Linked DNA regions of Homo sapiens: region 1 is linked to region 2. Evidence: fine-mapped expression QTL. Tissue or cell type: whole blood. Region 2 holds a variant in brackets; the other region holds the start of a gene. All regions are shown on one strand. Distances are between the middles of the regions.

Region 1 (5,127 bases), 52 kb after region 2:
ATTCCAGACGGAGTCTCGCTCACTCAGTGCTCAATGCTGCCCAGGCTGGAGTGCAGTGGCGTGATCTCGGCTCGCTACAACCTCCACCTCCCAGCTGCCTGCCTTGGCCTCCCAAAGTGCTGAGATTGCAGCCTCTGCCCGGCTGCCACCCCGTCTAGGAATTGAGGAGCGTCTCTGCCTGGCTGCCCATCCCCTGGGATGTGGGGAAGCACCTCTGCCCGGCCGCCCCGTCTGGGATGTGAGGAGCGCCTCTGCTCGGCCGCTACTCCGTCTGGGAGGTGAGGAGCACCGCTGCCCGGCCGCCACCCCGTCTGGGAGGTGAGGAGCGCCTCTGCCCGGCCACGACCCCGTCTGGGAACTGAGGAGCGCCTCCGCCAGGCCGCCCGCATCTGGGAAGTAAGGAGCCCCTCTGCCCTGCCGCCACCCTGTCTGGGAGGTGTACCCAACAGTTCATTGAGAACGGGCCATGATGACGATGGCGGTTTTGTCGAATAGAAAACGGGGAAATGTGGGGAAAAGAAAGAGAGATCAGATTGTTACTGTGTCTGTGTAGAAAGAAGTAGACATAGGAGACTCCATTTTGTTCTGTACTAAGAAAAATTCTTCTGCCTTGGGATGCTATTAATCTATAACCTTACCCCCAACCCCGTGCTCTCTGAAACATGTGCTGTGTCCCCTCAGGGTTAAATGGATTAAGGGCGGTGCAAGATGTGCTTTGTTAAACAGATGCTTGAAGGCAGCATGCTCGTTAAGAGTCATCACCACTCCCTAATCTCAAGTACCCAGGGACACAAAACACTGAGGAAGGCCGCAGGGTCCTCTGCCTAGGAAAACCAGAGACCCTTGTTCACATGTTTATCTGCTGACCTTCTCTCCACTATTGTCCTATGACCCCGCCAAATACCCCTCTCTGAGAAACACCCAAGAATGATCAATAAATACTAAAAAAATTAAAAAAATAAAATAAAGCAAAATAAAAACACACAAAAAAAATTAGGTGGGCGTGGTGGCCGGCGCCAGTAGTCCCAGCTACTCAGGAGGCTGAGGCAGGAGAATGGCATGAACCCGGGAGGCGGAGCTTGCAGTGAGCAGAGATTGCGCCACTGCACTCCAGCCTGGGCGACAGAGCGAGACTCCGTCTCAAAAAAAAAAAAAAAGCAATTTATACACACACACACAATTGGGGTTAGGATTGGTACTATCTGATTCAAAAGTTAAACAGAATTTGATAGGCTAGTCTGAGAATATTATCCCTACAGGGAAACATTCAAAGCAATAAAGCTACTTTGAAAGGACATGTCCAAAAGTTTTCATCATCTATAACAAAATCATTGTCAAATACTACTTACATTCTTTAGAAAAAAGTCTCTTTCTTTTACCCTGTCCACCTTCTGCACCTCCTCCAATTTCTTCATTTTCTTCCTCAAACTAGAAGTTAAAATGTATATATAGAAATGTCAAATAATTGCCTTGCATTTGATATTTTAATAATGACATTTTTTTTTCCTTTTCAACAGATAGGCCAGAAAGCCAAAGGAAGCAGCAAAAAAAAAAACCACGAAACCTTAGCATTGAAGGAGCCTATGTATCTAGTCCAACTTCCAACTCATGCAAAAATGGCTTCTACAATGTTCCTAACTAATAATCCTACTGCTTCTACTTGTAAGAGTTCCAATGACCATAAGTTTTATTTTTAAACAACTAAGGTGGCCTATTACTACTGTTACTGTTAAACAGTTGATACTGAATCAAAGTCTACCTTTGTAGACTTTGTAGTAAGCAAAACTAATATTTCCTATGCATTTGCTTATACAGTGCTAAAAACGTTCCTTAAGTAAGCCCGTAACCCTATTTTATAAAAAGAAAACTGATGTTCAAAGTTAAATAACTTGCTCAGAGAGAATGGAAATTTTGAAATCCAGGCTGTCTGACTTTCAATGCATTCTTTTCCCATTACTTCACAGTAAGTACAGTTTTGTTAACAATTGAACTGTTGGCTCATAGTGCGCGCTAATAGATGTTAGTTTTGATCTCTGATGATTCTGTACGTGTTTCAGTGTCTGGCAAATACAGACCAAAATCAAGGGGAAAGGGGTCACAAAACCTACTCTTCCTTCATGTCCTTCCCCACTTTCTAAAATGATCAATCCTTAGGGCGTGAAGTCCCCGAACTCTGTCCGCTGAATTCACTAAGGCAAGCAGACCCGATCCTGAACTCTGCCTCCGCTACTGAGCCCGAAGGAGTGAAGAAAAGACAGGTTTTGGACAGAGACGGTCACTCACCGTGGGGTCTTCTTCCTCATCTGCCATCCCACTAGCACGCCAACTCACAGCGTCCTGCCGGCTGGCTCCCAGCTGGTTACACTACTTCCGCCGCCTCACTTCCGGTGACGCGCGGGGCCGTAGCTGGGCCTAGCCCTCTGCGGCCTGCGGGAGGACGGTGGTGCTTTCCGGCCTAGCGGCGGAAATGCGACAGTCTCTAAGGGAGGAGGCCGGAGCGCCTCCCTGTAATCCCGAAGGAATTGAAAACTAACAAAGAAAAGGAAATCACGGGCTAGGTCGCGAGTATCTCGTTGTCACCCTGAATTTGCTACTGCGTATTGAATCACAGCTTCTTGTTTGGGGACTGCGAAGCTATGGATCATAGGAGGGCAAGCCAGCAGTCCTTTATCAGACAAATATGCTTTTAAATCATTTTAAAGATTTGTAGTTCCACTGTTTCTAAGCACTGTGTTAATTATTGGGGATACTGTGCTTCATCACAAATTTCCAAGAGATGGTGTCCCGAGACTAAGCATTTAAAATTTTGTGAAGGTTTTTTGATTTTTTTTTTTTTTTTTTTTGAGACGAAGTCTCACTCTGTCGCCCAGGCTGAAGTGTGCAGTGGCGCGATCCCGGCCCACTGCAACCTCTGCCTCCCGGGCTCAAGTGATTCTCCTTCCTCAGCCTCCCGAGTAGCTGGGATTACAGGCGTGCGCCACCATGCCCGGCCTTATTTTTGTTTTTTTGAGACACAACCTCACTGTCCCCCGGGATGGAGTGAAGTGGCGCAATCAGGGTTCACTGCAGCCTAGACCTGCTGGGCTCAAGCCATCCTCCCACCTCAGCCTCCAAGTAGCTGGGATTACAGGCGCACACCACCAATGCCCAGCTAATTTTTGTATTTTTAGTAGAGATGGGGTTTCCCCACATTGCCCAGGCTGGTCTGGAACTCATGGCCTCAAGCGATCTGCCCCGCTCTGCCTCCCAAAGTGCTGGGATTACAAGTGTGAGCCACCGTGTCCACCGGGGAAGGCTTTTGGTCAGAACAATGGCTGGCAAAACCACAGGCATCGGAAGGCCAGAGCTAGGGATATAATATAAATGTCCCTACAGTGTAACAGATGATGCTACATAAAGAAAATCCCGTAATACACACGATTTCTGAATGTCCTGCTGAACATTCGGTGAGTGAAAACTAATTATCTGAGAGTTGAACCTATCTTTGTTAATAAACACAAAGCGGCCGGGCGCAGTGGCTCACGCCTGTAATCCCAGCACTTTGGGAGGCCGAGGTGGGCGGATCACAAAGTCAGGAGATCAAGACCATCCTGGCCAACATGATGAAACCCCGTCTCTATTAAAAGTACAAAAATTAGCTGGGCGTAGTGGCGCACGCCTGTAATCCCAGCTACTCGGGAGGCTGAGGCAGGAGAATCGCTTGAACCCGGGAGGCAGAGGTTGCAGTGAGCCGGGATTGTGCCACTGCACTCCAGCCTGGTGACAGAGCGGGACTCCACCTCAAAAAATAAAAATTAAAAAAATAAACACAAAGCATTTTCCCACACTTTTAATGTACGTTGAAGTTTCTAGGAATGTTATTACCCCAAAATTGAATAGTAATTGTATTTTGTTTGGTCTGGAATTCATTAAGAGCTGTGTACCATTTCAAGAAATAACGTCACCAAAAGCAACATCACTTGTAATAATTTGAATAGTGAATAATGAAAAAATAACTTTGATTTGAGGAATGTGAGTTAAATTATTAGGCCCAAAGAGGCATTAAAATGAGAGGCAATCACATCCTGCTTGCCCCCTTTTGAGCTATGTATTTATGTCTTAAAACCGCTTGCTATTGCCACAAGTATTAGTTATAAATTAGCCTAATTATGCCCCATCAGACACCATATCGCACACCCTATAGCTTGATAATGTTTAGCCAATTACTAATCAATGTTATTTTTGTGAACCAATGAGAACTCCTTAAAGACAACTTTGTATCAGCCCACTCCCTGTCCTCATTCTTTTCCTTTAAAAATCCACTTGTACCTGCTGCTAATCTTAGAGTGTATATTCTAGGCAACTTTATGCTGCTGAGTTGTAATCCTCAAGTTTGGCCCAAATAAACTCTCTATTTATATTAATTTTGCCTCAGCTTCTTCCTTTTAGGTCGACAATACTCACCCAAATCAGTCTGCATTCAAAGCAATTCTACATATAGGTAGAAGCATCTGAAATCTTCATTATCCCCCCCTAGTGCCATCATACCTGAGTATTTATATATTGAAACAAATGTTACTATTTTTACTTTACTTTTATATTACCTTTATGCCTGACCTCCTGGCCACTGGATCACTGGATCCTGTTAGGATATTATGTTATTTTCAAAATTATGTGAGTAGGTAGATATATTAGTTATTTATTGCTGTAACAAATTACCCCAAAACTTAGTGGCTTAAAACAAATATCACACAGTTTCTGTGGGTCAGCAATGTGGGTGCAATTTAACTGGGTGCCTGTGGCTCAAGGTCCCTCCTGTTGCAGTCGGGATGTTGGCTGGGGCTGCAGTCATACCTCAAGTGTTGATGGAGGAGAATTTGCCAGAGTCACTCACAGGTTGCTGGAGGTTTCACTTCCTCCAGGTTGTTGGACTAAGGGCCTCAGTTCTTTAATGGATGTTGCCCAGAGGTCTCCCTCAGTTCCTTGCCATGTAATCCACTCCATAGGGCAGCTCACAATGTGCCAGTTGCCTTCCTCCAGAGGACACAAGTGGGAGAACCCAAAAGACAGAAATCACAGGTTTTTTGTTACCTAATTTTGGAAGTGACATCCTATAATTTCTGCCCTATTCTATTCACTAGAAGTAAG
Region 2 (5,208 bases):
AAAAAAAAAGGCGCAAGTATAAAATGTTCTGTAGAGCAATTATTTAAGATAAATTGGGAACAATTGTTTAAAATTAGGGGAGCCATTAGGAAATTAAGTAAACTGAAATTTTTTATTTGTAGCTGGAATTACAGGCATGCACCACTATGCCCAGCTAATTTTAGTATTTTTAATAGAGACGGGATTTCACCACGTTGGCCAGGCTGGTCTCGAACTCCTAACCTTAAGTGATCCACACGGCTCAGCCTCCCAAAGTGCTGGGATTACAGGCGTAAGCCACCACGCCTGGCCTTTTTTAATTTATTATTTATTTAATTTATTATTTATTTATTTATTTAGTCTTGCTCTGTCGCCCAGGCTGGAGTACAGTGGCACCATCATGGCTCACTGCAACCTCTGCCTCTCGGGCTCAAGTGATTTTCCTGCCTTAGCCTCTCGAGTAGCTGGGACTAGAGGCATGCACCACCACACCCAGCTAATTTTTGTATTTTTAGTAGAGACGGGGTTTCACTACGTTGGCCAGTCTGGTCTCAAACTCCTGACCTCAGGTGATCCGCCTGCCTTGGACTCGCAAATGGCTAGGATTGCAGGTTTGAGTCACCATGCCCAGCCTGAAAATTTTTTAAATATAAGTTTGTAATCACACAGAGAAACCTTGTGATGTTAATAGATAAGGCATGATTCTAAATCATAAACACAACAGAATTGTTATTTTTAATAGATGCAAAAAAAAGATGCACAGAATTTACACTCTAAGAATGAAAACAGCAAGGAATAAGAACAATATTATGTCTGTGTGGTGGGGTAATTTTTCTTTTATTTATCTTTCTATATTTTCTATAATGAACACATCTTATTTCTATGGCCAAAAAATGGTATTTCAGAAACATTTTCTTTACCTTTTCAAAGTCCGATTTTCTTAGTCAAATATCTTTTATTATCATACCACAACCACAATGGAGTGATGACTCTTGTTCTTTTTAACAGACCTCTGGGTCTTACTACTGAAAACATTCTACAGAAAGCATTATTTTGTAAATGTTCCTTTTTTTTATTTTTGTATTTTTGAGACGGAGTCTCACTCTGCTGCCCAGGCTGGAGTGCAACGGTGCGATCTCAGCTCACTGGAACCTCCGTCTCCCTGGTTCAAATGATTCTCCTGCCTCAGCCTCCCGACTAGCTGGGATTACAGGCATGTGCCACCATGCCCGGTTAATTTTTATATTTTTAGTAGAGGCGGGATTTCACCATGTTGGCCAGGCTGGTCTCAAAACTCCTGACCTCAAGTGATCCGCCTGCCTCAGCCTCCCAAAGTGCTGGGATTACAGGCGTGAGCCACCACGCCCAGCCTATTTTGTAAATGTTCTATTTTTAAAATATTTTTTTAGGTCGGGTGCGGTGGCTCACGCCTGTAATCCCAGCACTTTGGGAGGCCAAGGTGGGCAGATCACGAGGTCAGGAGATCGAGACCATCCTGGCTAACATGGTGAAACCCCATCTCTACTAAAAATACAAAAATTAGCTGGCCGTGGTGATGGGCGCCTGTAGTCCCAGCTACGCAGGAGGCTGAGGCAGGAGAATGGCGTGAACCCGGGAGGCGGAGCTTGCAGTGAGCCGACATCTCGCCACTGCACTCCAGCCTGGGTGACAGAGCAAGACTCCGTCTCAAAAAATAAAATAAAATAAAATATTTTTTAAAATTATACTTACATAGCCTTTTCATGATTATAAAGTTCTATCTGTATTATATATATTACCTTATTAATACTTAACATTTCTTCGAAGGAGCTACAAACTTCACAGTATAATGAAATCATACCTCAGGAAAAGCATATCATCTGAAAACAGGCCATTTATGACTCCACTTTCCTTCTCCAGGGCCAGCATACTAATGTGAAGCTTCTTTGAATTCAGGAAGTCCAAAATTAGCTTAATGATTTCAACCTCTTTTACATTCACTGTTTCTTCAGCCGTCATATTGATAGCCTAAATATGAAACAGAAAAACAATAAAGCTAGTCCTATTGATTTATTTCTAAGTTTAACTGCCTGGCAACTACACATAACAGGTTTACTGGGAATCTTTAGTACACATATTCTGAAGTGAAGTTAACTTAGTATTTATCAAAACCAAGTCGTTCTTTAATATGTGACAATGGTATGGCCATGATTTTTTAAAGTCCTTATCTTTGAAATACATATTGGAATAATTACAGATTAAATGATATAAACTTTGTGATTTACATGAAAATAA[TAGAAG/T]AGAAGAGTGGGAAGAGATAAAGATGAAACAAGAATGATTATGGTTACTGAAGCAGGGTAATAGGTAAATGAGGGTTTATTATATAATCCTGTCTACTCCTACATGTTTAAAATTTTCCATAATAGAGAATATTTTAAAAAGTCATTAATAACCAAACCATGTTTAGCTATGTCCCAAATACATTGTCCCAGGTATGCTCTAATACATTCACTCAATAAGTACTTAATGCCTTTTCTCTGTGACAGACATGATTCTGTACTCAGGAGACATTGGCCTTGCTTTAAGAAGCTTTAGTCTAGCAGTAATACCTAAATGATGACCTGGTCAGTACAGCGGAGCCAAACAAAACAAGGTTAGTTAAGATGTGCAACTTTAGGGCAGGTGTAGTGGCGTACGCCTGTAATCCCTGTACTTTGGGAGGCCAAAGTGGAGGGACTGCTTGAGTTCAGGAGTTCGAGACCAGCCTGGGAACCATGGCAAAACCACATCTGTACAAAAAAAATTAAAAAATTAGCAGGGCAAGATGGTGTGTGTCTATAGTCCCAGCACTCTGGAGGCTGAGGTGGGAGGATCGCTTGAGCCCAGGAGATCAAGGCTGCAGTGAGCAAAGATCGTGCCACTGCACTACAGCCTGAGCAACAGAATTAGACTCCGTCTCAAAAAAAAAAGAAAGAAAAAAGTGCAACTTTAGTCATATGGGTAATATCAGTGATATTTCAATACTCTCTAAGCTTCCTTCTAACTCTTACCTGTAGGTCTGCTACAACTGAGCACATAATGCTCAGGTTATGAATCCATAAAGATTTAGACCTGGGAGGACTATAAGATCATTTGTTCAACATTCTAATTTTACCAGTGAAGCCACACAAGTTAAATGGCCTAAACTGTTACAGTTTTCAAATGTTAAGGTTCAGAGCAATGCAAAATACCACCACACTAGGGGAGTAGCCACAAAGAAACTTCATCAGATGAAACAGACTATAAGCATATCTTTCTCACAGGACCAACTTATTCTAACCAAGCTTGCAGAAACATAAACATACACATGTGGACTGGGTGTAGTGACTCACGCCTGTAGTCCCAGCACTTTGGGAGGCTGAAGCAGGAGGATCGCTTGAGCCCAGAAGTTAGAAGTTACATACAGTGAGCTATGATCACACCACTGCACACCTCTGAACAACAGAGGAAGACCATGTCTCTAAACAAAACAAAACAAAAAATATATGTAGGCCCACAGGTTAGTGTTGTTTCCATTTCTTTACTTTTGGGTTGATTTTTTTGTTTATAACAAGAAATGCAAATGTCTAGCAGACTAGAATGCTCTCATCAGCAGATGAGTACATTTTCTCCCTCAGCTAGAGGCCTGGGCATGGTGGCTCACACCTGTAGTTCCAGCACTTTGAGAGGTCGAGGTGGGAGGATCACATGAGCCCAGGAGTGCGAGACAAGCCTGGGCAACATGGCGAAACATGGTCTCTACCAAAAATATAACAATCAGCCAGCATGTGTGCCTGTAGTTCCAGTTACTCAGGAGGCTGAGGTGGAAAGATCACTGGAGCCCCAGAAGTTGAGGCTACAGTGAGCGGTGATCATACCACTGCACTCCAGCCTGGGCGGTAGCGTGAGACTCTGCCTCAAAAAAAAAAAAAAAAAAAAGAAGGCTGGGCACAGTGGCTCACACCTGTAATCCCAGCACTTTGGGAGGCTGAGACGGGTGGATTATGAGATCAGGAGTTTGAGGCCAGCCTGGCCAACATGGTGAAACCCCACCTCTACTAAAAATACAAAAATTAGCGGAGCGTGGTGGCACGCACCTGTAATCCCAGCTACTTGGGAGGCTGAGGCAGGAGAATTGCTTGAACCCAGGAGGCGGAGGTTGCAGTGAGCCAAGATTGTGCCACTGCACTCCAGCCTGGGCAATAGAGCCAGACTCCATCTCGGAAAAAGAAAAAAAAACTAACAAATAAAAAAAAGTGGCGCTAGGGTAAACAAGGGACAAACCACAGAAAAATAATTATACGACTCACTCAAATATTTAATGACATCAGACTACACAAATCCCTCTGCAGAGTAAGAATATGTCTGTCTCAGGAAACAGTAAATCACAAACTTATCTCCCAACACACCAGCTACCCAACTCCGCATGCTTTAGGTTTCCCTTTCCTATCTTCTGAGCTGACCACCATCCTCCTGTTCACAGACTTCGTCCAAAAGAGGATACGGTAAAATAAGTTAAGATTTCCACTCACTAAATTCTTTTTTTTTTTTTAAAGACAGGGTCTTGCTCTGTCACCTAGGTTAGAGTGCAGTTGCATGACCATGGCCCACTGCAGCCTTGACCTCCCAGGCTCAAGTGATCCTCCCGCTTCAGCCTTCCAAGTACCTGGGATGACAGGTGTGTGCCACCGTACCCAGCTAATTTTTTATTTTACTTTTTGTAGAGACGGGATCTACCTATGTTGCCTAGGCTGCTCTCGAACTCCTGGGCTCAAGCAATCCTCTCGCCTCGGCATCCCAAAGTGTTGGGATTACAGGGATGAGCCACCGTGCCCACCTTTTTTTTTTTTTCAGGTTATCCGTGGAAACTACTCATTAAATTCTGATCATATCAGAACTGTCTCCCTAATATTATTCTTAGAGCACACTGATTAGTGATTTTAGCATTCCTCAAATCTTTAGACAATTCTTTTTTTTATTTTTACTGCTCCTTGCAGAGCAGGCTACCCAATAGGCAGTGTGCCCAGAGTAGCCCTTCAGGTAATTCTTACTAGCAAAAAAATGGCTTTTACTAATTTAACTCTCAGAAAAAAATATTCCCTCCTCTGTAGGTTCTTAGAGGGCACATCACATATATCTCCATGTACCAACCACACAAACTTAATGCACAATTGGGACTATAATTTTCTAATATAGCTCAATATACCAATGATACTAAACATTGTATAGGCT

Which allele goes with the higher level. Positions count from the first base shown, and alleles are read on the strand shown. Sizes are in standard deviations (SD) of each study's normalised expression.
With allele T in place of TAGAAG in region 2, the expression in whole blood of the gene that starts at base 2,366 in region 1 is higher (moderate effect, 0.58 SD a copy in GTEx).

What was found. PIP is the estimated chance that this variant, and not a neighbour inherited with it, causes the effect.
Region 1: TAF13 starts here. The variant in region 2 is fine-mapped to the expression of TAF13 in whole blood (GTEx, PIP above 0.99).

What each region holds. Positions count from the first base shown.
Region 1 is chr1:109,073,638-109,078,764 of GRCh38, forward strand. TAF13 (TATA-box binding protein associated factor 13) reads right to left here and starts at 2,366. Exons shown (of 4, transcript NM_005645.4): 1 at 2,284-2,366; 2 at 1,350-1,428. The coding sequence starts at 2,310. TMEM167B-DT (TMEM167B divergent transcript) reads right to left here. Exons shown (of 2, transcript XR_947688.3): 2 at 4,655-5,009. RefSeq lists enhancers at 623-1,609, 2,214-2,273, 2,374-2,623.
Region 2 is chr1:109,021,536-109,026,743 of GRCh38, forward strand. WDR47 (WD repeat domain 47) reads right to left here. Exons shown (of 15, transcript NM_001142551.2): 2 at 1,820-1,986. The coding sequence starts at 1,977. Among named protein-coding and RNA genes, the nearest start is that of WDR47, 18 kb to the right of the region's middle. The variant TAGAAG/T (reference allele first, on the strand shown) is at 2,254.